Linked DNA regions of Homo sapiens. The protein of the gene in region 1 purifies or fractionates together with the protein of each later gene. This does not show direct contact. Each region holds a gene or a part of one and is shown in the gene's direction. Other genes may lie near its edges. The genes, in order: USP50, ABCE1, ACADM, IPO5, MTHFD1L, SLC25A13 and ALDH3A2.

The links.
Region 2: the proteins of USP50 (region 1) and ABCE1 purify together in Homo sapiens (affinity purification with mass spectrometry; one large-scale study listed by BioGRID and IntAct). This does not show direct contact.
Region 3: the proteins of USP50 (region 1) and ACADM purify together in Homo sapiens (affinity purification with mass spectrometry; one large-scale study listed by BioGRID and IntAct). This does not show direct contact.
Region 4: the proteins of USP50 (region 1) and IPO5 purify together in Homo sapiens (affinity purification with mass spectrometry; one large-scale study listed by BioGRID and IntAct). This does not show direct contact.
Region 5: the proteins of USP50 (region 1) and MTHFD1L purify together in Homo sapiens (affinity purification with mass spectrometry; one large-scale study listed by BioGRID and IntAct). This does not show direct contact.
Region 6: the proteins of USP50 (region 1) and SLC25A13 purify together in Homo sapiens (affinity purification with mass spectrometry; one large-scale study listed by BioGRID and IntAct). This does not show direct contact.
Region 7: the proteins of USP50 (region 1) and ALDH3A2 purify together in Homo sapiens (affinity purification with mass spectrometry; one large-scale study listed by BioGRID and IntAct). This does not show direct contact.

What each region holds. Positions count from the first base shown.
Region 1 is NC_000015.10:50,540,167-50,543,666, reverse strand, and holds part of USP50 (ubiquitin carboxyl-terminal hydrolase 50), read left to right. Parts: coding exon 1-69; intron 70-2,402; coding exon 2,403-2,618; intron 2,619-3,500. UniProt on the Homo sapiens protein: Deubiquitinating enzyme that removes conjugated ubiquitin from specific proteins to regulate different cellular processes. Regulates the inflammasome signaling pathway by deubiquitinating 'Lys-63'-linked polyubiquitination of the PYCARD/ASC adapter protein.
Region 2 is NC_000004.12:145,115,311-145,118,810, forward strand, and holds part of ABCE1 (ATP-binding cassette sub-family E member 1), read left to right. Parts: intron 1-1,982; coding exon 1,983-2,104; intron 2,105-3,500. UniProt on the Homo sapiens protein: Nucleoside-triphosphatase (NTPase) involved in ribosome recycling by mediating ribosome disassembly. Able to hydrolyze ATP, GTP, UTP and CTP. Splits ribosomes into free 60S subunits and tRNA- and mRNA-bound 40S subunits.
Region 3 is NC_000001.11:75,748,709-75,752,208, forward strand, and holds part of ACADM (medium-chain specific acyl-CoA dehydrogenase, mitochondrial isoform a precursor), read left to right. Parts: intron 1-710; coding exon 711-851; intron 852-1,742; coding exon 1,743-1,838; intron 1,839-3,500. UniProt on the Homo sapiens protein: Medium-chain specific acyl-CoA dehydrogenase is one of the acyl-CoA dehydrogenases that catalyze the first step of mitochondrial fatty acid beta-oxidation, an aerobic process breaking down fatty acids into acetyl-CoA and allowing the production of energy from fats.
Region 4 is NC_000013.11:98,016,175-98,019,674, forward strand, and holds part of IPO5 (importin-5), read left to right. Parts: intron 1-554; coding exon 555-677; intron 678-2,310; coding exon 2,311-2,530; intron 2,531-3,406; coding exon 3,407-3,500. UniProt on the Homo sapiens protein: Functions in nuclear protein import as nuclear transport receptor. Serves as receptor for nuclear localization signals (NLS) in cargo substrates.
Region 5 is NC_000006.12:151,012,202-151,015,701, forward strand, and holds part of MTHFD1L (monofunctional C1-tetrahydrofolate synthase, mitochondrial isoform 2 precursor), read left to right. Parts: intron 1-1,577; coding exon 1,578-1,619; intron 1,620-2,678; coding exon 2,679-2,779; intron 2,780-3,314; coding exon 3,315-3,492; intron 3,493-3,500. UniProt on the Homo sapiens protein: May provide the missing metabolic reaction required to link the mitochondria and the cytoplasm in the mammalian model of one-carbon folate metabolism complementing thus the enzymatic activities of MTHFD2.
Region 6 is NC_000007.14:96,312,099-96,315,598, reverse strand, and holds part of SLC25A13 (electrogenic aspartate/glutamate antiporter SLC25A13, mitochondrial), read left to right. Parts: intron 1-3,500. UniProt on the Homo sapiens protein: Mitochondrial electrogenic aspartate/glutamate antiporter that favors efflux of aspartate and entry of glutamate and proton within the mitochondria as part of the malate-aspartate shuttle.
Region 7 is NC_000017.11:19,675,424-19,678,096, forward strand, and holds the end of ALDH3A2 (aldehyde dehydrogenase family 3 member A2), read left to right. Parts: intron 1-134; coding exon 135-149; coding exon of another isoform or gene 150-202; 3' UTR 203-2,173; downstream 2,174-2,673.

The sequences.
Region 1 (3,500 bases):
AAGATGCAACAAGATGCTCAGGAATTCTTGATTTGTGTCCTAAATGAACTTCATGAAGCTCTAAAAAAGGTAAGTAGAGTTAATGACCTTGAAATAGGATAGTCCTGAACCTTTATCAGCAGCTTCCATTTTTCATTCTTTTACTTGTTCAATTAATATTGTCTACTTTGTGCCAAGCACTGTGCTAGGTGTCCCATGGAGAACATCCAAGTTAGTATTTGAATGTGTAGCTGTATTTACCAAACTTACTTGTCATCAGAATCATCTGGGAAGATTTTACAACACAGATTTTAAGGCAAATACTCCAAGGGTAATTAATTAGAATGTCTTTTGGGAAAGCTTACTTGGCATTTCCAGTGGTCAGCTAGGCTTTGGAAACACTAATCTACTTTTCTTTGTAAATAGAGGCTGAATGGACTAGTTTTTAAAAGTGCAAAATATATTCCTCATGAGAAATAACATATAGAACTTTATAGCTTAAATTTTCTTGGGACCTACAAATCCATGAAAATATTAAGCTTGATATTAGATTAAGCAACAGATCTACGCACTACAAAGTTTCATCCTCATACCAAACATACCTAACCTGAGTTCATCACCGAATTAGGACATACATTTCATTAAACATGAAATCATCAGTTACTCTAGAGGTTTTGCCTTTATTTACAAAACTCACTGCCCTTAGCCTTGGTCTGAGACCCACATTCTCTGAAAATGTGTCCTTGACTTTATGCAACATCCTTCTGCTAACATTACCTCACTGCACCTCTAATACCCAGGGAATGGTTAGCATAAAGGTTGCAAACTATAGCTATTAATTGTTCTCATTGGCAGATCTCAGTTCCATTTTTCATTTAGAGTAATAAAAAAGTACTCATGGCCAGGCGCTGTGGTTCGCGTCTGTAATCCTAGCACTTTAGGAGGCTGAGGTGGGTGGATCACTTGAGGTCAGGAGTTCAAGACCATCCTGGCTAACACGGTGAAACCCCGTCTCTACTAAAAATACAAAAATCAGCCAGGCGTGGTGGCAGGAGCCTGCAGTCCCAGCTACTCGGGTGGCTGAGGCACAAGAATCGCTTAAACTCAGGAGGCGGAGGTTGCAGTGAGCCGAGATCATGCCACTGCACTCCAGCCTGGACGACAGAGCAAGACTCCGTCTCCAAGAAAAAAAAAAAAAAAAAAAAATGAAAAGGAAAAAAAAAAACAAAAACATATTCATGGCAGCACTTTTTTAAGAAAAGAGGTGAGTGGGCAGTAAAAATCACTTATGTCCTCTTCTACAGCCAATCTGAAACAAACAGCATTCTGTTTCCCAAGATCAAAGTAGGAATTAGGGGAATTAAGTTACTGTCAGGGTGGAAGACTTTGGCAGCAGAGTGTGATGAAAGGAGCAAGCAAAAATGGAATGCTGAGCACAGCCCCAAATTAGAGCCAGCTGTGGAGCTAACACATCTTCAAAATGTATATTCCACTGAGGCTCTTAAATCACTGAAAATTCAGGGTGTGCCCCAGAAATGCTGTTGCTGAGTATGAGCTGGATCCAAACCAGGCCACAAGGCTAGTTCCACCAGGCTGCCTTAGAAATTTAAGATTTGCTCTCTTATCTTTTTTTTTTTTTTTTAATTAACCTTGTAGAGACAGGATTTTGTTATGTTTCCCAATCTGATCTCAAACTCCTCCCGCCTCAGCCTCCCAAAGCACGACGATTACAGATGTTAGCCACCATGCCTGGCCAAGATTTGCTCTTTTAAAAAAGTGTTTTCTAGAAGTTAAAGGAGTAAAGGCTGCAGAATGTAACCTGAAGGGACTGGAGACAGGAAAGATTGGATTTCTTAATATTTTACCTTTAGATCTGCTTGAGTGAACTAATGCTAATTTAGCTTACTTACCCCCTTCCAGAAAAAACTAGCTCCCAAGGCTGGTAGCTTATGGGGCCATGGGTATATGTTTTACCAGAGTTAGACTGTCATCATTCCTCTGTTTCATCTAACGGGAAAATATCTGAATTATCAGAAATCACACATGATATATATACTTTCAAGGATATCTTACTCTATTGTCTGAATCCAAAACTAAGTGGTTTCTGGTAGCAATGTCTCATTCTGATAGAAAAAAAAATCAGTCATTTTATTGAAAACTTTTCCTTTTTTTTTGGAAACATGGTCTCACTCTGTCACCCAGGCTGGAGTGCAGTAGTGCTAACACGGCTCACTGCAGTCTCAAACTCCTAGGCTCAACTGATCCTCCAACCTCAACCTCCCAAGTAGCTGGCACCACAGATGTGTGCCACCATGCCTAGCTAATTTTTTGTTTTTTTTGTAGAGATGGGATCTCACCATGTTGCCACAGTCTTTTTTAAATAACCAATAATTAATTTGGGTGAAATTTGCTCCTTGATTCAGTACCACTACTCCCGGAGAAGATCATATGAGAAAGGATCTACTCAGAGATGCTGCAGGAAGTGGATTACCACTGAGACATCCATCATCACCCAGCTGTTTGAAGAGCAGCTCAATTATAGCATCGTATGTTTAAAGTGTGAGAAATGCACCTACAAGAACGAAGTCTTCACTGTCTTCTCACTCCCCATTCCATCCAAATATGAATGCTCCCTTCGGGTAGGAATGCAGTATTCCTGGACACTTTGTCTCGCTATACTCTCAGCCCCGGATTTTCTCGGGGCTGTTTCCTACATTTGTTTAGTATGAGAGACGGCTTTATAACTTTAATTTAAAAAAAAATAGACTGAGTGCGGTGGCTCATGCCTGTAATCCGAGCACTTTTGAAAGCCAAGGCAGGCGGATCACCTGAGGTCAGGAGCTCAAGACCAGCCTGGCCAACATGGTGAAACCCTGTCTCTACTAAAAATACAAAAATTAGTTGGACATGGTGGCGGGCACCTGTAATCCCAGCTATTTGGGAGACTGAGCCATAAGAATCGCTTGAACCTGGGAGGCGGAGGTTGTTGTGAGCCAAGATCGCACTACTGCACCCCAGCCTGGGTGACAGAGTGAGTCTCTGTCTCAAATAAGTAAATAAATAAATAAAAGAAAGAGGAAGTCCATGATGACAGTATTTTTTTTTATAGGGACATACTGGCCAAAAGTTCCTAGGAATTCAATCATATTTTTAAATGTACTCAACGAAATAGCCTGACTGTAAAATTGGAAATATAGTGGGGTTTATTGAGTCTATTGAGGTAGATTTGTGCATAAAAGAAATTTATAATTTCTTGCAAAAAGTTTATGACCCTCCCTTACCCCAGAGGTCTGTAAGGCCCAGATTGGGAACTAGATATAAAACATTCTAGACTCTTAGACTTGAGCTCTTATATTTTGGACTAAAGTTGTGAAATGTTTTGGAAAGAGAGAATGGAATCTAGTGCCTTGGTTTACCTCTCAAATTTTCTTCACCACAACGCCAAAAGTTAATCTGTAACTGGGGATGTGGGCATGGGGTGGGTGGCAGTAGAAGACAGCCAGCAATAAGGAGCAAACAAG
Region 2 (3,500 bases), on another chromosome or scaffold:
GCTCCCTCACACTGGCTGTTTAAGGAAACATAGGATTTTAAGAGTAGAGAAGTATTCCATGTAATGGATTAGTGCCAACAAAGACACCGATGCAAGATGAGTATCACCAGCTCACCTGGGTGATTTGCCATTTTTATTGATAATTACCACCATTGTGGTAGAAAACATTTCCTTTTAATTTTCCCTTTTCATCTTAGACCTGCTCTTATTTTCCAATTTTCCATTGTTACTTTTTTTTTCTTGCCAGATTACTCCTGAAATGTTTTCTCATTTCATTCCCTTACTCTAGAATTGTGCTGTAGCCTCTAGACAAACATCCTTATTTAAATTTTAATTGAAATTAAAATTTTATTTCATCAAACTAGCAACATTCAACTTATGGCTAGTAGTCACTATATGGGACAACATAGAGATAGAACATTTTCATAATTGTAGAAAGTTCTGGACAGTGCTATTTCAGAACCTACTACTATCTTCCTCATTTCCAATTAGTTCATACTCTTCATTTTGTCATTCAACAACTTTTTTAGGTGTCTGTTAGTACACAGTGTAAGACTAAAGATCACAGAGGTGCTAAAATGTATTAAGAGTCTCCCTTAAGATGTTTATGAGCAAGTTATGGGGTAATCAAAAATAATAAAAGTCCAAGTATCAGTCCAAATACTTGTTACCAGTATTCAAGAGTGAGGGGGAAAGCTCATTTGCATATTAGGAAAAGTATTCCCATAGCAAGTTGGATTTGAGATGGACCTTAAAGGGTTAGGTGGGATTTCAGCAGGTAAAGATCTAGGCAGGAGACTACTTAGAAAAAGAATAGCTTCCTAGACACCAGAGAAGTAGAGAAGTGGTTTATTTAAGAAAAAAGATGCATTCTTCAGTGTTTCCTGTGTATGAGCTAATAGAAAGATAGTAACTAAAGTTTTAGAAAGTGTTGAAAGTCTAAGTCTAATTAATTTAAGTGATTAATTTCATTTGGAATTGAGACCCACATCAGGGGACCTAAAGAAAATGAGATATGAAAGAAATACGAGGGCCTGAACTAGAATTTAGGCAAAGAAGAAAAAGGGTGAGATTGAAACACAAGACATTGTTGAGAAGGAATTCACAGACTTTAACAGTTTAAACAAAATATCAGTGGGAATAAAATGTCATTTTTGAGGGAATGATAATTTCGTTAATACAAATATGGAGAATTTTTATTTGTGTAGGAAGCTGATACATTAATTTGACATATGAGATGTTTGCAGGACATTTTTTTAACATGTTGAATGGTGTTCGATATGGAAATGGGAATAAAGTGCTACATAAAACCTTCATGACTATTACTTGCGTCTAAAACTTCTATTCCAGCCAATACTGTATCACTTCATTCAAATATAGCCACTTAAGCTTCACATCATATCCCATTCTCATTCATAAAGTGCTCCAGTACCCACTAACCTATTTTCTTTCTGATGTTCACTGATTTTATTATCTGTGGAGCATATTTTGCCATGTAATCTTTTTTTGTTACCATTTCATACCTATTCCTTGTCTTCCCCAGCTAAATGGAAACGTCTCAGGTTAAGGATTCTGTCCTATCTTTGTGTATGCGTCCATCCCCTACTACAGCTAGCATGGGACAGGACAGGTACAGGGCTTAATACATAAATTGAGTAGCATAATAAACAGTTTAGGCTACATCTGAATTAAATCTATTATAATTACTTTGTAACACTTATTTCGAAATATGTTTCTTATTAGCAGAATGCATTTAATTCATATATCAATAAACTTTTAAATTGGCTGATTTTTTCCTTTTAGTTCAGGAAAACATTTTTAAATATGAGCATTGATAATGAGCCTTACTAAAAATGTTTTATGGCTTTTGCTTCTTATGTCTTTATGCTTAAATTTTATTAGATGTATCTCTTTTTCTGAAATTTCCAACTATTAAAAATAGTTATGTAAGAGTTTTAACTAAAATCTGGTTTGATTTTCAGATATATCATTGTGGTGGAACATGATCTAAGTGTATTAGACTATCTCTCCGACTTCATCTGCTGTTTATATGGTGTACCAAGCGCCTATGGAGTTGTCACTATGCCTTTTAGTGTAAGAGAAGGTAACTTGAAAAACTTTTTTCACATATGCTGTATTCTCTTCTACTCTAATGCTTATAAACTACATTATTGATATTAAGTAGTTTTACATTGGTCTGATATCATCCAAAACTCTAGTTCCTTGGAATTTAATCACTGAGCATATAAGGTTATATATATCAGTTGTTATACAAAATATATTTTTTTCATTTTGGAGAATTTTCTCCTGGGGATGGGTAGAAATGCAATGTTACTTTTGTTGGGGGTTGGGAGGCTACAGTAAAAGTCCTCTGCATTTTGGCTTCTGCAGTATTACTGTAGTATTTGTCATTTTCAAATTAACTTTGACAGGCCAATACCAGTAATGAAACTCTTAAAATGCTTTCAGTGTTCATCTTGTTTTCATGTTTTAAATTTATCTGTAATATGTATACTATGTTTTTGGAACTAAGGCTATCTAAAAACCTAATAAGATAGTTTAGTAAGTGTATTAAAATTTTCATTTAGTCTTTGTACTTCCAAGAAAATGAGATTCCCTGGCCTCTCCCTTCCATGTCTCCTCCTTACCTGTGTAATTTAAGCAAAAATAGAAACTAGCGTACCACTAAGTGGCTCCTTAAAAAAAAGTACCAATGTACTCTCTGCCTTCAATACCTTTTTCCTTTTTTTCTTCCCATTTTCCTTTCACTGCTTCCTTACTTGTGTCTTATTTTTATTTTTCTCTCCACCTGTCTTAAACTGACAATTCAGAACACTAAAAGGGCTGTTTACTCAGGAAAAAAATACCATCTCCTAGAAGTAGAAAAATTCATGTAGCCTGTAGTTCCCTAAGAGGTGACAGGTTTTTTGGTTTCTTTCTTTCTTTTTTTTTTTTTTAATCTTGGAGGAATCTTTTTTATACCTAAAAGCTCTTTTGGAAAAATAAATTTATATTGCATTATAATCCTTTTCATAAAAAGATATTGGGAGTTTTTATAATTTATAAAAAGTACATAAATATTAAGATGTGGGGAAGAAATGGTTGTAACTTACCTACTTATACATTTGAGATAGATGCATACTTTAAAGAAAAATTTGCAGTTACCTAGTTTTCTTGCCAGTAGTCTTAAGGGATGACATCAGAACAAATTTATTAATGTTTTATTCTTGTCAATTAACAAATATGTATTGAGTACCTTACTCTATACCATATGGTAGTCTTTGAATCAAGTTGATAATAATATGGGTACTCGGCAGTCATTCTTCACAACTCCAGTTATAAATGTCATGTCTAAAGGCTGTGCCATTCAGTAAATGGTACCCAGTAAGGTTTTTAATGTGCTCGATCTATTAAAACAGCTTAAGAAACTTTAGTTTTTCTCTGTTCCTTTAATATATTGAAATCAGTGCAGCATACTTAAAAGCTTTCTATAAACTGTA
Region 3 (3,500 bases), on another chromosome or scaffold:
TAAGTGTAGAATAAGGAAATTGACTATAAAGGGAGAACAAGGTAACTTTTTGGGGTTCTAAAGTACTCTGTATCTTGAGCATGGTGGTGGTTACACACATATACATTTGTCAGAGCTATTAGAAATGTATACATAAAAATGGTGACTTTTCTACATGTAAATTATACCTCAGTAAACCTAATTTTAACAGAGTCAAAGGAAAACAAAATCAATTTTTATTCAGTAGATTATTTTACTAGCTCTATTAAGATTAAAGGTCTCAAATCAGATTGTGTTTACTAAATGTTTTTTCTGACATGGTAAAATAGATAGCTTTCAAACATATAATGAGATTTGTCTTTGTTGATAAGATGTACTTGTAGACCTTTAGACTAGTGTTGGTTTCAAAATTTGTGAAACATTGTTTTAGATTATGGTTGGCAAATTTTTTTGTAAAGATCCAAATTATAAATATTTCAGGCTTTGCAGGCCATATCTCTGTCACAACTACTCAGTTCTGCCATTGTAGCAAGAAAGTAACTGTAGATGATATATGAACAAATAGGCGTGACTGTATTCCAATCAGGCTTTCTTTGCAAAACAGGCATTGCAGACTACAGTTTGTTGATCCCTGTTTTAGGTAATTGCAGAAAGTCATGAAACAGTGATTAAAGCAAAAATTGATGCTGGCTCAAAAAAAATTCCTTAAAATATATCAATTTTCTTATTAGGAATTAAACATGGGCCAGCGATGTTCAGATACTAGAGGAATTGTCTTCGAAGATGTGAAAGTGCCTAAAGAAAATGTTTTAATTGGTGACGGAGCTGGTTTCAAAGTTGCAATGGGAGCTTTTGATAAAACCAGACCTGTAGTAAGTAATATGGGTTCATAATCTTTATAGGATCTTTTATTTATTACATTAAATAAGTATTTTTACTTTAAAATTGTATGTTCAGTGTGTTTCTCTTTTTAATATCTGCTTATTTTATTAAGGATATAGGAAAAATACTGTTACTTTTCTTTCTTTTTTTTTTTTTTTTTTTGAGACAGAGTCTCACTCTGTCACCAGGATGGAGTGCAGTGGTGCAATCTCAGCTCATTGCAACCTTCACGTCCTGGGTTCAAGAGATTCTCCTGCCTTAGCCTCATGAGTAGCTGGGACTACAGGTGCACACCACTCTGCCCAGCTAATTTTTGTATTTTTAGTAGAGATGGGGTTTCATGATGTTGGCCAGGATGGTCTCGATCTCTTGACCTCGTGATCTGCCTACCTCGGCCTCCCAAAGTGCTGGGATTACAGGCGTGAGCCACCGCGCCTGACCATATTGTTACTTTTCTTAATTTTTTAAATAATTCTTCAAGTTTTCTTACTATACATTATAGAAATTATTTTAGCAACTGCAAAATTACTGTAGTTGGTGCTAGATTTAGAGAGGCAGTCCACCCTAAATATGATCATCCTGTTAATATGTACTCATTTTCTGTTTTTACTCATTAAGAACATTTCCCCTAGTAAGATTTCTCTTGTTAAACAAAAGCAATGACTTTTTTCTAGAGTATGATACTATGCCTAACAAATGCCTCTTACTACCTTTAATTAACAAATAATATAAACTTACGTGCCTATTCCCTGTTCCCCACCAGTTTCTTGTTGCTGTACATCACCTTCTCTTTGTACACTCCCTAACATAGACACTTAGGCAGATATTGTGTGTTTTAAAGATAACATGAACTTTTGCTTTATAATATCTTAAAATACTAGGTAGCTGCTGGTGCTGTTGGATTAGCACAAAGAGCTTTGGATGAAGCTACCAAGTATGCCCTGGAAAGGAAAACTTTCGGAAAGCTACTTGTAGAGGTAATTTTAATACTGCTTGCTTTGTTCAAATGTAAAGACACTCATTTTCATTTAATATTTAGAAATGATTTTTAAACCACAAACTAATCAATTTCTACTTTGATAGCAAGAAGATAATGTGGTTTTATCAAGATGAGTTTCAAAGACATTTCTTTTTAGAGTGTGCCACTATTGGTTACTTCTGAACCTGACACTGTGCTATGCATTTTTTTTTTTTTTTGAGATGGAGTCTCGCTCTGTTGCTCAGGCTAGAGTGCAGTGGCACAATCTCGGTTCACCACAGTCTCCGCCTCCCGAGTTCGAGTAATTCTCCTGCCTCAGCCTCCCAAGTAGTGGGAACTACAGGTGCGCACCACTATGCCTGGCTAATTTTTGTATTTTTAGTAGAGATGGGGTTTCACTATGTTGGCCAGGCTGGTCTCGATCTGCCCGCCTCAGCCTCCCATAGTGCTGGGATTACAGGCATGAGCCACTGGGCCCGGCCTTGTGCTATGCATTTTAAATATATTTTCTAGCCGGGCGCGGTGGATCACGCCTGTAATCCCAGCACTTTGGGAGGCTGAGGCGGGCGGATCATGAGGTCAGGAGATCAAGACCATCCTGGCTAACACGGTGAAACCCCGTCTCTACTAAAAATACAAAAATTAGCCGAGCATGGTGGTGGGCGCCTGTAGTCCCAGCTACTCGGGAGGCTGAGGCAGGAGGATGGCGTGAACCCAGGAGGCAGAGCTTGCAGTGAGCCAAGATCACGCCACTGCACTCCAGCCTGGGCGACAGAGTGAGACTCCGTCTCAAAAAAGAAAATATATATATATTTTCTGATTCTCTCAGTAACCCTTTTTTGGGTGGTGTTATCTCTTTTAAGGATCAAGAAACTGAAGCTCAGAGGTATTAAATGATTTGTCCAAGGCCACACAATTTATAAGTCACAGATCCAGGATCCTTGCTTTTTTTTTTTTGCGGGGGGTGGGAGACAAAGTCTTGCTCTGTCGTCCAAGCTGAAGTACAGTGGCATGATCTGGGCTCACTGAAACCCCCACCTCCTGTGTTCAAGTGATTCTCCTGCCTCAGCCTCCCGAGTCGCTGGGACTACAGGCACACACCACCACACCCAGCAAATTTTGATATTTTTAGTAGAGATGGGGTTCCCTTATGTTGGCCAGGCTGGTGTTGAACTCCTGGCCTCAAGTGATCTGCCTGCCTCGGCCTCCCAAAGTGCTAGGATTACAGGCCTGAACCACTGCGCCTGGCCTATGTTATACTCTTAATTCTTGTTACTTCCCATGTCCTCTTGAGTATCAGATAATTTTAGTACTATAAAGAGTCGTGTCTTCCATGAATTTCCAGGGTAATTCTTAACTCTTACCCCTTTAAATATTGATGCTCCCCCATTATCTGTATTCTTTCCTGCAACTCACTATGAGTTGTATAGTGAACCTCCTATTTCTCTTTTTTTTTTTTTTTGAGACAGGGTCTTGGTTGCCCAAATGCGAGTGCAATGGTGCAGTCATGGCTTATTGCAGCCTCTTGGGATCAAGCAATCCTCCCACCTCAGCCTCCTAAATAACTGGAACTATAGGGGCACACTACCATGCCTGCCTAATTTTTTTATTTTTGTAGAGATGAGGTCTCACTATGTTGCCCAGACTGGTCTCAAACACC
Region 4 (3,500 bases), on another chromosome or scaffold:
TCTCTCATCAAACCACCTAGGACTGTCAAGCATACTTCATTGTGTGTTTAGAGTCCAGCATCTCATATGTGGCCACTTGGTGGGCCAGTGCTACCGTGTAGGTAGTACCAGCTTCCTGAAGGTGCCCACATGCTTGTAGGCCCAAATTGCCACTAACAGCGAGACCCCATTCTCCCCACCATCCACCCCGAAATGAGGATTATTCTGCTGAAAACAAAGTAAAAATAGTGAAAACACCTTTGTTTCAGAATGTAGAAATTAGAGATAATTTTTCAACCCATCTATTTTAAGTATGTTCCAAGGAAAATCTTTGCAATAAATACAGTTCTTGCCACACACCTTTGTCTTTCGAGGTAAGACTGGCCTTTGATTAGTAAGAGACATGATAACCCACACTTGAGGGTTACTCCGGTCTCTAGACTCTTGATTTACCCTTAAAACAGGAATGAGAAATTGATTTTCTGCATTTTTTAAGGTTTTTATAAATGTTACTATTGATAATAGAAAATATACTTTTTAATCCATATGAGTGTTTATGTGTATGTTTTTTTTAGGATGATAATGATGTTTATATTCTGACCAAAGTGTCAGATATTTTACACTCAATATTCAGTAGCTACAAAGAAAAGGTGTTACCATGGTTTGAACAGCTGCTTCCATTAATTGTCAACCTCATTGTAAGTGTTACCTCTCTTAATAGTTGTTTTGCGTAGTTTACCTGGAATTCTTTTCACTGCAACGTAAAATCTAATGCTTGAAGTTAAAATGGGTCTCAGAAATGATTGTTTCCATTGTACATCTTTGATTTTATCAAGTTGACTGCATTACCCTGGATATTTTCTCATTCATTATATGCTTGAAGATTCCTAACTTGGTTTTCCATAGGCCAATTCAGTTCTAACACATCTGAAAGATATATAAGTGATTTTTTTTATTATTTCAGATTATCTGTGCCCTCCTAAATTAATAAAAGGAAACAGAATGGTTACTTCTTTTTTAGTGGACCATAGATAATTCAATTATCTTTGTTATGTACTACCAGCAATCATGGATTATGGATAATGGGCATATATATATATATATGTATTTTTTTTTTACCTTCTCTCACCCTTATATTTGATTTTTTTAAAATGTTTTATAGACTTCTTTTTGTTTGTTTGTTTGTTTGTTTTTCTCAAGATGGAGTCTTGCTCTGTCGCCCAGGCTGGAGTGCAGTGGTGCAATCTCGGCTCACTGCAACCTCCGCCTTCTGGGTTCAAGCAATTCAGACGCACGCCACCACACCCGACGAATTTTTTGTATTTTAGTAGAGATGGGGTTTCACCATGTTGACCAGGCTGGTCTCCAACTCCTGACCTAGTGATCCACCCGCCTCGGCCTCCCAAAGTGCTGGGATTACAGGCATGAGCCACTGCGCCCAGGCCTACGCTTCCTATTTTAAAGCAGTTTTAGATTCACAACCAAATTGAACAGGAGGTACAGAGATTTCCCATGTGCCTCTGCCCCTGTGCGTGCATGGCCTCAGCACCATTAACACCCCCCATCACAGTAGTAGATACATGTGTTTCTGTTATGGACCTACATCAACACATCATATAATGGCCTATGTGTATTCAGTTTTTTTGTTTGTTTTGTTTTTTTGTATTTTTAGTTGTGTTTTTTTGTTGGGTTTTTAGTAGAGATGGGGTTTCACCATATCGGCCAGACTGGTCTCAACCTCCTGACCTTGTGATCCGCCCACTTTGGCCTCCTAAAGTGCTGGGATTACAGGCGTGAGCCACCTCGCCTGGCTGTGTATTCGGTTTTTAAAAAATATATTATAAATTAGCAGCTATCATCAGATGTTTGGAATTTTTCTTTTTGGCTTTCAATTTTGCATTTTATTGTATTAAGTAGTGCAGTACATTTTTTAAAAGATTCGGGCACACATGACTTAGCCTGTTGAATAAATGCTATAAGTTAAGATCTTTGCAGCTTTTATTATTATTGTATTTTTTTAATGTAGCATTACCATTGTCTTTTTTACAAAGTAAATTTATATACAATGCTTCCACTGTCAGTTCTTCTGTGTGATAGTGTCAGATTGTAGAGTTCTGTAACAAATCATACAAGTCTTTGAAACCTAAATTTTATTAAATCTGTGTATTTGATTGAATATCGTTGGTCACAAGAAGTGGTTGTTACTATGTTTTCTTTTTTCTTTTGCCTGTATGAGGAATATCAATGTAAGCAGATAGTCTATAGTGAATATTTCTTTACATTCTTTGTGTACACCAGTATTTGAAGCTTAAAAGAGAATTTCTTTTGTAGTGTCCACATAGACCATGGCCAGACAGACAATGGGGATTATGCATCTTTGATGATGTCATAGAACACTGTAGTCCAGCCTCATTTAAATACGCAGAATATTTCTTAAGACCAATGCTCCAATATGTATGTGACAACAGCCCAGAAGTCAGGCAAGCAGCTGCATATGGCCTGGGAGTCATGGCACAGTACGGTGGAGATAATTATCGCCCTTTTTGTACAGGTACGTTTGCTTATTCCGTTACGTGCATTTCATTCCAGACATCCTGTGAATCCCTACTTTACTCTCTTTACCACACTCCCAAACATTATTTGCCTATTTCTGCTGTAGTCTGTTTTCAGACATCTCATCTGTAGCATTTAGGATTTTAGATGATAAAAAGATGATTTATTCTCATAGAAATAGAATCAAAGACATCCCCTGCCCCCAGCCTTCCAGGGTGCATTTCTCTTTGCGTTTTGGCAATATACAACAGCCTTAGAATAGGACTTTTTTTTTTTTCTTTAATTGAGGCCCAGGCTGGAGTGCAGTGGCATGATCTCGGCTCACTGCAACCTCCGCCTCCCGGGTTCGAGCAATTCTGCTTCAGCCTCCTGAGTAGCTGGGACTACAGGCGCATGCCACCACGCCTGGCTAATTTTTTCTATTTTTAGTAGAGATGGGGTTTCACCATGTTAGCCAGGATGGTCTCGATCTCCTGACCTCGTGATCGGCCCACCTCAGCCTCCCAAAGTGCTGAGATTACAGGCGTGAGCCACCACACCTGGCAGAATAGGACTTTTAAAACTTACTGGGGAATATAGTTAGGCAGCTTTTAAAGTTTAAGGACCCTCGGGTGATGTGATGAGTACTGTAAATCTGGAGGCCACTAATCTCTCTGGGTCTCTAAGTTAGTAGAGGGCTAGTGCTCCTGTCCATGCTGGGGCAGTCCCCCCTCTGTTGCCATTCTGTAATGACATAGCCAAGAAGACAACACTTCCCATACACTTTAACATTTCTTTACCATAATCAATATCTGAACCAAATACAAAAATACATATATTCATTTGCATGAAAATGTGAGGTTTTAGCTGAACTTCTTTCAAATGCTTATTTTAGAAGCACTTCCCCTGCTGGTAAGAGTTATTCAGTCTGCGGATTCTAAGACCAAAGAAAATGTCAATGCTACAGAGAACTGCATCTCAGCAGTAGG
Region 5 (3,500 bases), on another chromosome or scaffold:
TTGGTATGGTCCAAGTGTCTGGCATGGTCTATATGCAGGGAGTGTTTTCAATAATGGCAAGATAAATGAACTTTCATCCTCTTAATCCTCTATTCCATAGTGCTCATCTCGGTGTCCTTCCTTCATATTGAATAGCTCTGTATTTTTGAACCATGATTATTCATTTCTACTTCTGTTTTCTTTTTTCTTTTTTGCTACAAATACTGCGCTGGGATCGACTTCCTTTTGATCATTACACAAATAACCATGGCTGCCTCTTATGTTTATTCAGCTTGTTTTTTTTCCATAATTTGTACAGTGGAAAATCTTGTGGCCCTTGAATTTGCCCATTTTAAATTTGCCCTCAGTCATTTTAAACTCACATCCTGTCCCCCAGAGTGCTCGGCCATTCCCAGTGCAATCCAATAACTAATATTGTGCTATGCTTTGGGATCCACAGATTCTTTCACAATTAGATCTTTAAACTAACCATTGTATGAATCAGCATTCTTCACACATAGAACCAATAAGGATGTGTGTATATATAGAGAAAGATATTTATTGTAAGGAATTGGGTCACATGATTACAGAAGCTGGCAAGTCCAAAATCTGCACTGTGGGCTGGCAAGCTGAAGACCCAGGAGAGGCAGTGGTGCTAATGCAGTCTGAAGGCAGCAGTCTGCTGGAGAATTCTCCTGCTCTCAGGGGAGGCCAGTCTTTTTGTTGTACTCAAAAAGGCCTTTGACTGGTCAGTTGAGACCCACCCACATTATGTAGGACAACTTGCCTACTCAGAGGCTGCTGATTTCCATATCAATTTCATCATAGACACCCTCACAGAAACACGCAAAATAATGTTTGAACAAATACTGGACACCCTATGGCCCCAGCAAAGTTGACACATAAGATTAACCACAAGGCCAGGCACAGTGTTTCACCCTGTAATGCCAGCACTTTGAGAGGCCGAGGTGGGAGGACTGCTTGAGCCCAAGAGTTCGAGACCAGCCTGGGGAAGATAGCAAGACCTCGTCTCTACAAAATAATAAAAAATTATCTGGGTGTGGTGGTACACACCTGTATTCCTAGCTACTGGGGAGGCTGAGGCAGGAGGATCACTTGAGCCCAGGAGTTTGAGACCGCAGTGAGCTGTGATTGTGCCACTGCCCTCCAGCCTGGACAACAGAACTTTATGGCAATTACCGTAAAATGATTTCGAATGGTGATGTACTCTGTATAAATCAAGTATTAAACATATTATTAGTTTTATGTTCTAATTTGAACCAATGTTTGAGAAGTTTCATACTGTTCCATTGGCTCAAATTAGAATCATCCAGGGAGATTTTAAACATTACTGATCCCAGGTTCCCCTCCCAGAACTTCTGCTTTCATTGGTCTGGGTGGAGCCCAGGGATCAGTGTTTTCTAAAAGCTTCCCGCAGGAGTTTAGGTTTAGCCAGTGCTGCCAGCTACTGTTTTAAAAGCACAAAACATAGAGGTACATTTCTAAAAATTGAATGTGATTATGTTGTTCTTTCTTTCAGATCGGTTGTGTAAGCATTTTTATAGGATTATTCTTCATGTTTTCTCTCCTTATTTCAGGTAACGGCTGGTGTTCCTCTTAAGAAAGAATATACAGAGGAGGTAAGAGGAGCTGTTTAGATGCTTATGTGAAGAATCTCTTAAATCCAGTGACTCGTTGGCTTTCAGTGAATGAGCCCTCCTTCAGTGGCCTCTTAGAAAAGTGCTGTTCTGTCCGGGCGCAGTGACTCACACCTGTAATTTCAGCACTTTGGGAGGCCAAGGCGACCGGATCACATGAGGCCAGGAGTTCAAGACCAGCCAGGCAAAACCCATGGCCAACATGGCAAAACCTCATCTCTACTAAAAATACAAAAATTAGCTGGGCATGGTGGCTCACGCCTGTAGTCCCAGCATGAGAATCGCTTGAACCTGGGAGGCAGAGGTTGCAGTGAGCTGCGATCGCACCACTGTACTCCAGCCTGGACGACAGAGTGAGACTCTGTCTCAAAAAAAAGAAAAGAAAAGTGCCGTTCTAAGAATCCGAGAGGAAATGGATGGGATGAAAGGATAAAATTCATTCAGTTAACTCTTAAATATCAAGAAAAGATGGATATAGGCTTTGTCTACTATTGTGTACTCCCAGGGTAGCCATCAGAGCAGGAACTCAAGGTCTCCAGGTCAGAAACAAATATGAAGCTTACACTTCTGTATTCTTTTGTCATGGAAGGTCTATATACAGTTGGCTTTATGATTTACAGGAGTGGCTTACTCTTTTCTGTAAATAGACTTTGATTTGCTGGCAGCAGTACCTCTTAGCTCCTACAGGTGGCGCCAGGGATCTGAGCCAGGAATACCTGGTCAGAGCTCCTCACCCACCTGGGGCCTTGTGCCTGTCAGGCCTCAACCTGCAGAGCATGGGCGCATTGCATAGACCCTGCAGCCTGTCCTCAGCAGGGTGAGCTGCCAGGCTTCAGACCCACCCATATGCCATTGGATCCAGAATCATTTTAGAAATTATTTTGAAGACGAACCTCTTTATTCTTGCAGCCATCTTTCTTGGAGGAAAAAGTGAAAAAAGATGTAGCAAATCCTGCCAGAGAGGTGCTGGCAGTTTAGCTTGGCAGGTTTGGTGGGAGACAATACACAGGGGTCTGGGTTTTGCTTTTTTCTTTTTTACAGAACATCCAGCTGGTGGCAGACGGCTGCTGTAACCTCCAGAAGCAAATTCAGATCACTCAGCTCTTTGGGGTTCCCGTTGTGGTGGCTCTGAATGTCTTCAAGTAAGTCCAGCCTCCTCCTTTAAATGTGGGCATTATCACTAGGCCACCCTGTGAACGATATTTGTGTCTTGGGGTATTTGGTCTTTCTGTGCTTCATCTAAAAGTATACAGAAATACCCAGTTCTTTCTGTTTGTTTATTTGGTTTGGTTTCATTTTAGCAAATGTGTTCTCACAATGTTATTAAGGAAGTGAAATTTATATATAGTGAGTTACTATCTCCTTGGCTTTTTTTTTTTTTTTTTTTTTTAATTCTACCCAGCATTTTTGTCTGAAACAAACTGTGAATGATCAAAGGGATATGTTATGGAATTTTCTTGATAACACCCTTAACGACTTGAAATATTTGAGTCACTTTAGAGAGGACTTTTTTTTTCCATGCTTTAAGTCTGATTTATTTAAACACGATGTGACCACTTTTGATGTTTAAAATGTATTCAGTGTTAGGGAGCGAAGTTCTGTATAAATGGTGAGTCTTTCTTTGAAAACATAGCTAAATGGATACAGATGCAAAACCACAAACATTTTCTTCACTAGGACCGACACCCGCGCTGAGATTGACTTGGTGTGTGAGCTTGCAAAGCGGGCTGGTGCCTTTGATGCAGTCCCCTGCTATCACTGGTCCGTTGGTGGAAAAGGATCGGTGGACTTGGCTCGGGCTGTGAGAGAGGCTGCGAGTAAAAGAAGCCGATTCCAGTTCCTGTATGATGTTCAGGTAAGATC
Region 6 (3,500 bases), on another chromosome or scaffold:
GGAATTTATGTTAACACAATGATCTTTACTCTTTCCTTCCTCAGTCCTGTCCCCTTTTACCAGGAGAGTCCTAGAAATGGAGTCCCAGAAACATTTGTTATTGGTCCAAATTCCCATGAATGCCTTTGCTTTTGGCACTGCTCTAGGCCAGTGATTCCCTACATACTGAAGTCTTCTGGACTGGTATAAAAAACTGCTGATGCCTGGGTCTCCCTCCAGAGATCATGATTGAATTGGACTTGGGTGTGGCCTGAGCCTCAGGATTTTTGAAAGCTTGACAACCACTGTTATTTTGGTGCACATTGCTTCAAGAGACCTGCTGGCTCCTTCTTGGAGTAAGAATGGAATGCAGTGAGATTAAGTTAAAGTCCCTGGTGTGTCAGTTCAAAGGAGGGGTATGTAGGGGTTTCTCCAAATTTCTCTTCTTTCTTGACAGCTTTGTCTTAGTCCTGCCTGGTGTCTCCAGGGTGCTTAGGCATCAAGTTTATACAGTTTTGTGATAATCCTGGAATAGAGGTTTTAATCCCAAACTTGACTGAAAGCTCCATTTGTCTCCTGCAGAGTCTCAGTGGTTTTTTGTGATCAGAGAAGGTGCTGGAGGAGGGAAGCATTACAAAGAGCAAACCTGGTCTCAGAGCCCTCTCCTGGGCTAACCTCATCCAGGGCCATGTGGTGCCAGTGTTCCCTGGCTTAGGTCATATGGCTTCACAGCAAATAGAGGGTTGGAAAGGTGTGGGGAGAGTTGAAAGGTGATATGTAGCGTAAAAAAGTCAGGGAGCAGGTCTTTTTTGGATATTGAGTTCTTTTAGAAGATTGTCCGAGGAGCTCTGACTCCTCTGTGCTTTGGTCTCTTAGACCTTTAGTCCCATGACCAGTCTCTGCTTTTGATGAATTCTTAGAGGGAACCATTCCTCCCTTTGTTCTCCACTATGTGTGAGGATTATCTATTATGGCATTCCTGCTGAGCGCTTCCTCCTCTCTGGTTGGCATTTGCTGCCTCATAAACACCTACAGATTTCCTCATAAGACTCTGTGGGTTTGCCTTAGGGTGGACCTTGCAACAGAGGAATGTGTGACGCTGAGACATGTGTTGGTTCTGCTTGGAGGTAAGGAGGGGGATATGCCTTTGTGTAGTGATACAATTCCTTTAGCAAAGTATTTAACAGCTACTGAGCAAACTCTATTTTCATGGCCTGTTTAACCAGACAGACCCTCTAATTGGGTGAAATGAACTAAATTAAATGTCCTTCTCCTAAAAGTCACCAGTAACCTCAGTTCTAAACCTGTTGGCTTGTCCTCATTTCTGGCCTCACATGACCCTGTGTCCTACCCTTTCTTTCTCGCCATCTGCTTTCATGATGTCCCCTCTCATTATTGGCCTCTAGCATCTCATATTACCCCTTTATTCTCCTTTGCAGGCTTCTTCTTCTTCTTCCTTCTTCTTCGTCCTTCATCCTTTCTCCTCCTTCCTTCCTCCTTCTTCCTCCTCCTTCTCCTTCCTTCTTCTTTCTTCTTTCGTCTTCTTTCTTCCCAGCAAAGATATATTTTTATTTTAGTGTTTAGCAGCATGACATATGCATATAGAATGATAGTACACTTTACCCTAATCTTCAAAACAGAATGTACTAGTTTACCAATGAGGAATTTTGGCCAAAAATGTAGTGTTTTTCCCTTCCCTGTACAGGTCAGGTATATGTAGGTCCAGCACTAATGCTGCACCTTTTGAGAAGCATTACTTTAGCAAAAATCTAGAAATCTTTCACTTTTTCTGAATCTAACAAAGGGTCTTACTTTCTTTTTTTTTAAATGTACATTTTAAAAAATAATTTCAACTTTTATTTTAGATTCCGGAGGTACATGTACAGATTTGTTACCTGGATATATTGCATGATGCTGAGGCTTGGGGTACAGTTGACCCCATCACCCAGGTACTGAGCATAGTACCCAATAATTAGTTTTTCAACCCTTGTTCCCCTCCCTCCTCCCTCTAGTAGTCCCCAGTGTCTATTGTTGCCATCTTTATGTCCATGAGTACCCATTGTTTAGCTCCCACTTATAAGTGAGAACATGTGATATTTGGTTTTCTGTTCCTGCATTAATTCACTTAGGATCATAGCCTCCAGCTGCATCCATGTTGTTGCAAAGGACATGATTTTGTTCTTTTTATATCTGCAAGGTATTCCACGGTGGATATATACCACATTTTCTTTATGCAATTCACCATTGATGGGCACCTAGGTTGGTTTCCTGTCTTTGCTACTGTGAATAGTGCTGTGCCTTGTGGGCTTCTCTTCATTCTGCCTGGACACCTGGAAGGTTAGTGTCCCCCAAGGCTGTGCCTGAGATTGTCTCCTCCCTCCAGTTCCTGCCGCACTACCTGCCCCCTTAATGGGTATTGGCTCCTTAACACTCCTCAGCCTGGGTGGCTGTCTCAAGCTCTAGCCCTGCACTTTTAGCTGTTTAGTTTGAGCTGGAAGACTCAACTTGTCTGTCTCAAAGATATTTCAAACTCTGCTGACCTAGAACTCACCAGTTCTTATAACTGAATCCATCTTTTTGGTCATTCCTGACTTCATCCTGCAGCTTCACTTTCCTGATAAAGTTTCTAGTTAGTTCAATTAAGTACCTGTTATGGGCAGATAGGAGAGACACCATCAGCCTGAATTGGATGTGGCAAAAGAGGTGGATCAGTGAAACCCTTCTACGGCCATGGAGCATGTATGTCCTATCTTCTCTGTTCAAATTCAGGGCCTCTTTATTTTGTAGCTGTACCATTGCTGTAGCTCCCACTGATCCCCTTGCTTTTGATCTCATCCCTACACCTTCCTCTCCATTCTGTCCAGACTGCCAAAGGACTTTTCTAAGATTGGCTCTTGTTGCCATGATAATAGCACTACCGTGTTCATGGGTACAGTACTTAGCAGCTTTAAAAAGTGCATTCAAGGGCATAAGTGACGACGACTGTTTGTCAGTGCCTACACTGTGCTGGGATTCCAAAAACAGGTAAGCTACTAGATTTGTTTTCAAGAAGCTCAAAGTCTTCAGGGATTAATATAACCAGATAATATAAAGACCCAAGCTTCATTATTTGATCTTTATAATCATCTACAAGGTAGCAGGGAACGTGTTGATAACCTCATTTGTCAGATAAAGAAACCTAAGGCTCAAAAAGGTTATGCAAATAATAATAATAATATTAGCATATGTTTATATAACACTTGTAAAAGCCGGACACTGTTCCAAGCACTTTATATCTACTAATGCAATCTTCATAACAATCCTATGACATGTAAGTGCTCTCACCTTCATAATATACATCGAGAAACTCATTTGTACAGAGTAGTTAAGTTCTTTGAGGTACAGAGAGATTACATAACTTGCCCAAGATCACATGGCTTGTAAATAGGAGAGCTATGATTTCAACACAGGCAGCCTGGCTCCAGAGCCCAAGCACATAACCAGTGTGCTGCATTGCCCTCTTTAATTTATCTTGCTATGCA
Region 7 (2,673 bases), on another chromosome or scaffold:
TTTTGTACAATGCATGTAGAGTCTCTTCAGACAGGAGGTGTCTGAGTCCCAGTGCTGAGCTTGTGTTGCAAGGCTGGTTGTGGGTAGGTTTTTAAAGCAGCTGAGTAAACTGAATCCTTTTTTCCTCTCTCCAGGCAGAATATTACTGAAGAATGATCCTGTTCAACCTCCTAGTGCCTCTACTGAATTATTCCTCTTTTAAATGGTTAATGAACCAATAATTTTTAAATCATACCAAAAATAGTAAGAAAATATGCAAACACTCTGTGATCAAACTTAAAAGTCATTGCCATTCATCATTAATAAAAGTTGCCATTTCAACTACGTCCCAACATTCCCTAATAGGGTATTCAGGGAACCTGTCTTAAATTGTGCTTATCTAAATCTTGGAACTTTGAGCTAGGGGAGGAGAATGTATTAGACTAAATACAAACTGCGGGGTTGTAAGGGAGTCTCAGAACCTCACTGAATCCTTCACTCCAGTTAATGGCACTGCTCACTTCCTGCCTCTGCTGCCACCATCACTGTGTGAAGCTTTCAAGAGCTTGGTACTTCCCAGGGCTACCGGCAGTCCTCTGTAGTCCAGAGAGGTGAGATTAGATCTTCTTGGTTCCCTGTGAGGTTTCAGGCACTAAAACTCTATGTGGGGAAGGGAGGGGTTACTCCTCCTCCAATGGGACTCAAGGACTTGACCTCCAGGAGTAGGCCCCTGGTCAGAAGTGCCATCTCACCAGTGGTCTTCATTCTTCCTCATTCATTCTTTATCATCCTGTGTTCTGTTTAGTTGCAACAATCTCTTGTGACTAATGTCACTCAAAGCATCTTGTAAATCCTAGGGCTTCCTGGAAGTTAGTTGCCAAAGTCATGCAAGCATCACCTGTCATTCTTGTGTTGGAGTTATAGAATTCTACATCTTATAAAACCTAACTGGCATTTAAAAAATACTGTGGCCGGGCGTGGTGGCTCATGCCTGTAATCCCAGCACTTTGGGAGGCCGAGGTGGGAGGATTGCTTGAGTCCAGGAATTTGAGACCAGCCTGGACAACACAGTGAGACCTCATCTCTATCAAAAAATAAAAATTAGCTAGATGTGGTGGCATGAGCCTGTGTTCCCAGCTGCTTAGGAGGCTGAAGCAGGAGGATTGATTGAGCCTGCGAGGCCAAGGCTGCAGCAGGCTGTGATTGCACCACTGCACTTCAGCTTGGGCAACAGAGCAAGACCCTGTCTCCGAAACAAATAAAAAATACTGTAATAAAAGTACTTATAAACATACTAATCCTCTTTCAGGACCCTAAAGTTGCAGGTTAGTAGGTCTTCAAGGACAAATCTGTAAGTTTCTTATTTCTGTAGTGCAAGTAAAATTTCACTTTTTGAAACTATAGAGAGATCCCTTTCTGATTAGCCTACAGAACTTAAAGTGAGGGAACCATTTCCTCTCACAGACAAAGAGGCCTGGGATATTAGGACTTTGGGGTTTGAGAGCATCATGGGGCAGACAGATGGTGGATGGTCTGGACAAGAAGCGAGTAAGCCACTGCGGTTGGTCATACTGAAGGGAATTGATGGCAAGAGGATCCCCTGAGCAAGTCAGAAGTTACTCTCATCAGTCGTTCATGGTCACAACCTGAGGTACTCTGCTGAGTGGGCAAGGCTGAAGAAGAGGCCTGTGGAATGCAGCATTACCTGCTGGACAGAGCAGGGCAGGCAGTTCTATGCCTTGGAGCTCCTGACTGCAGGGACTCTGTCCCCACACTCAAAAAGACTCAGCTCACTCAATGAGAGAATGTGATTTACTTTATAGAACGTATAATCAACTTTGTTGAATAATTTGTTCTATTAAGGCTGTCTAAAGTATGTGATGTCTTCATCATAGTATGAAGTGTTGAAAATTAATAACGAGCCTAGTTTAGGAAAAAGCTGCTTAAAACTGTGGCTCTAAGAGAGTAATCATAAAATACCTTAGATAAAATTGCACTATGGAATTTTCATTGAGTATGTTTAAATTATTGGCTTGTCTACTAATACACATCTGCTTCAAAATGAACATATTTCATAAAATTGGCATCAATTTTAATGACGCTCCTGGTATGGAACCTCAGATATACCCTATTGGAGACAATCCTTTGATCATAAATTCTCCCCAACTATAAATCATTTTATGTCTTTATCATAGATGGTATTTGTCAACTTTTTTTTTCTCATTTTAAAATTCTTAGCTGAGAAGATTTTCTCAAACTTTATGTTCTGCTGTGTGTGTTGGGGGTGGTGGTTAGTAGCTATAGTAAATAGGTTTTTCCAGTGGCATCCTCCTACCCCCAGTTGCTGATCTAGAACAAGTGTTTCTGTAAGCATATTTGTAGAACACTAATCCCGCAAGATTTTACACAAAAAAATGGTCCTGCCACCAGTCCTGTATACCACTGGCTTGTAAAGCACATCAGCAAACTAAAGGACCCAGGTCATTTGGAACCTCTGAAGTGCTAGTGTGTGCAGCTCCCAGACTTCCTTGACCGCGGAGCCGTTTACCTTAATACCTGTTAACCATGGACCACACTTGGGCAAACAGTGGCATAGAGTCTGGAATTGCTTCCATGATGACTTTGCTGTGCTCTGTTCCTACTTGTTTTGTGCCCTTATTTATATCATGTCACTACTAGAAGAAAAAGTTCAGT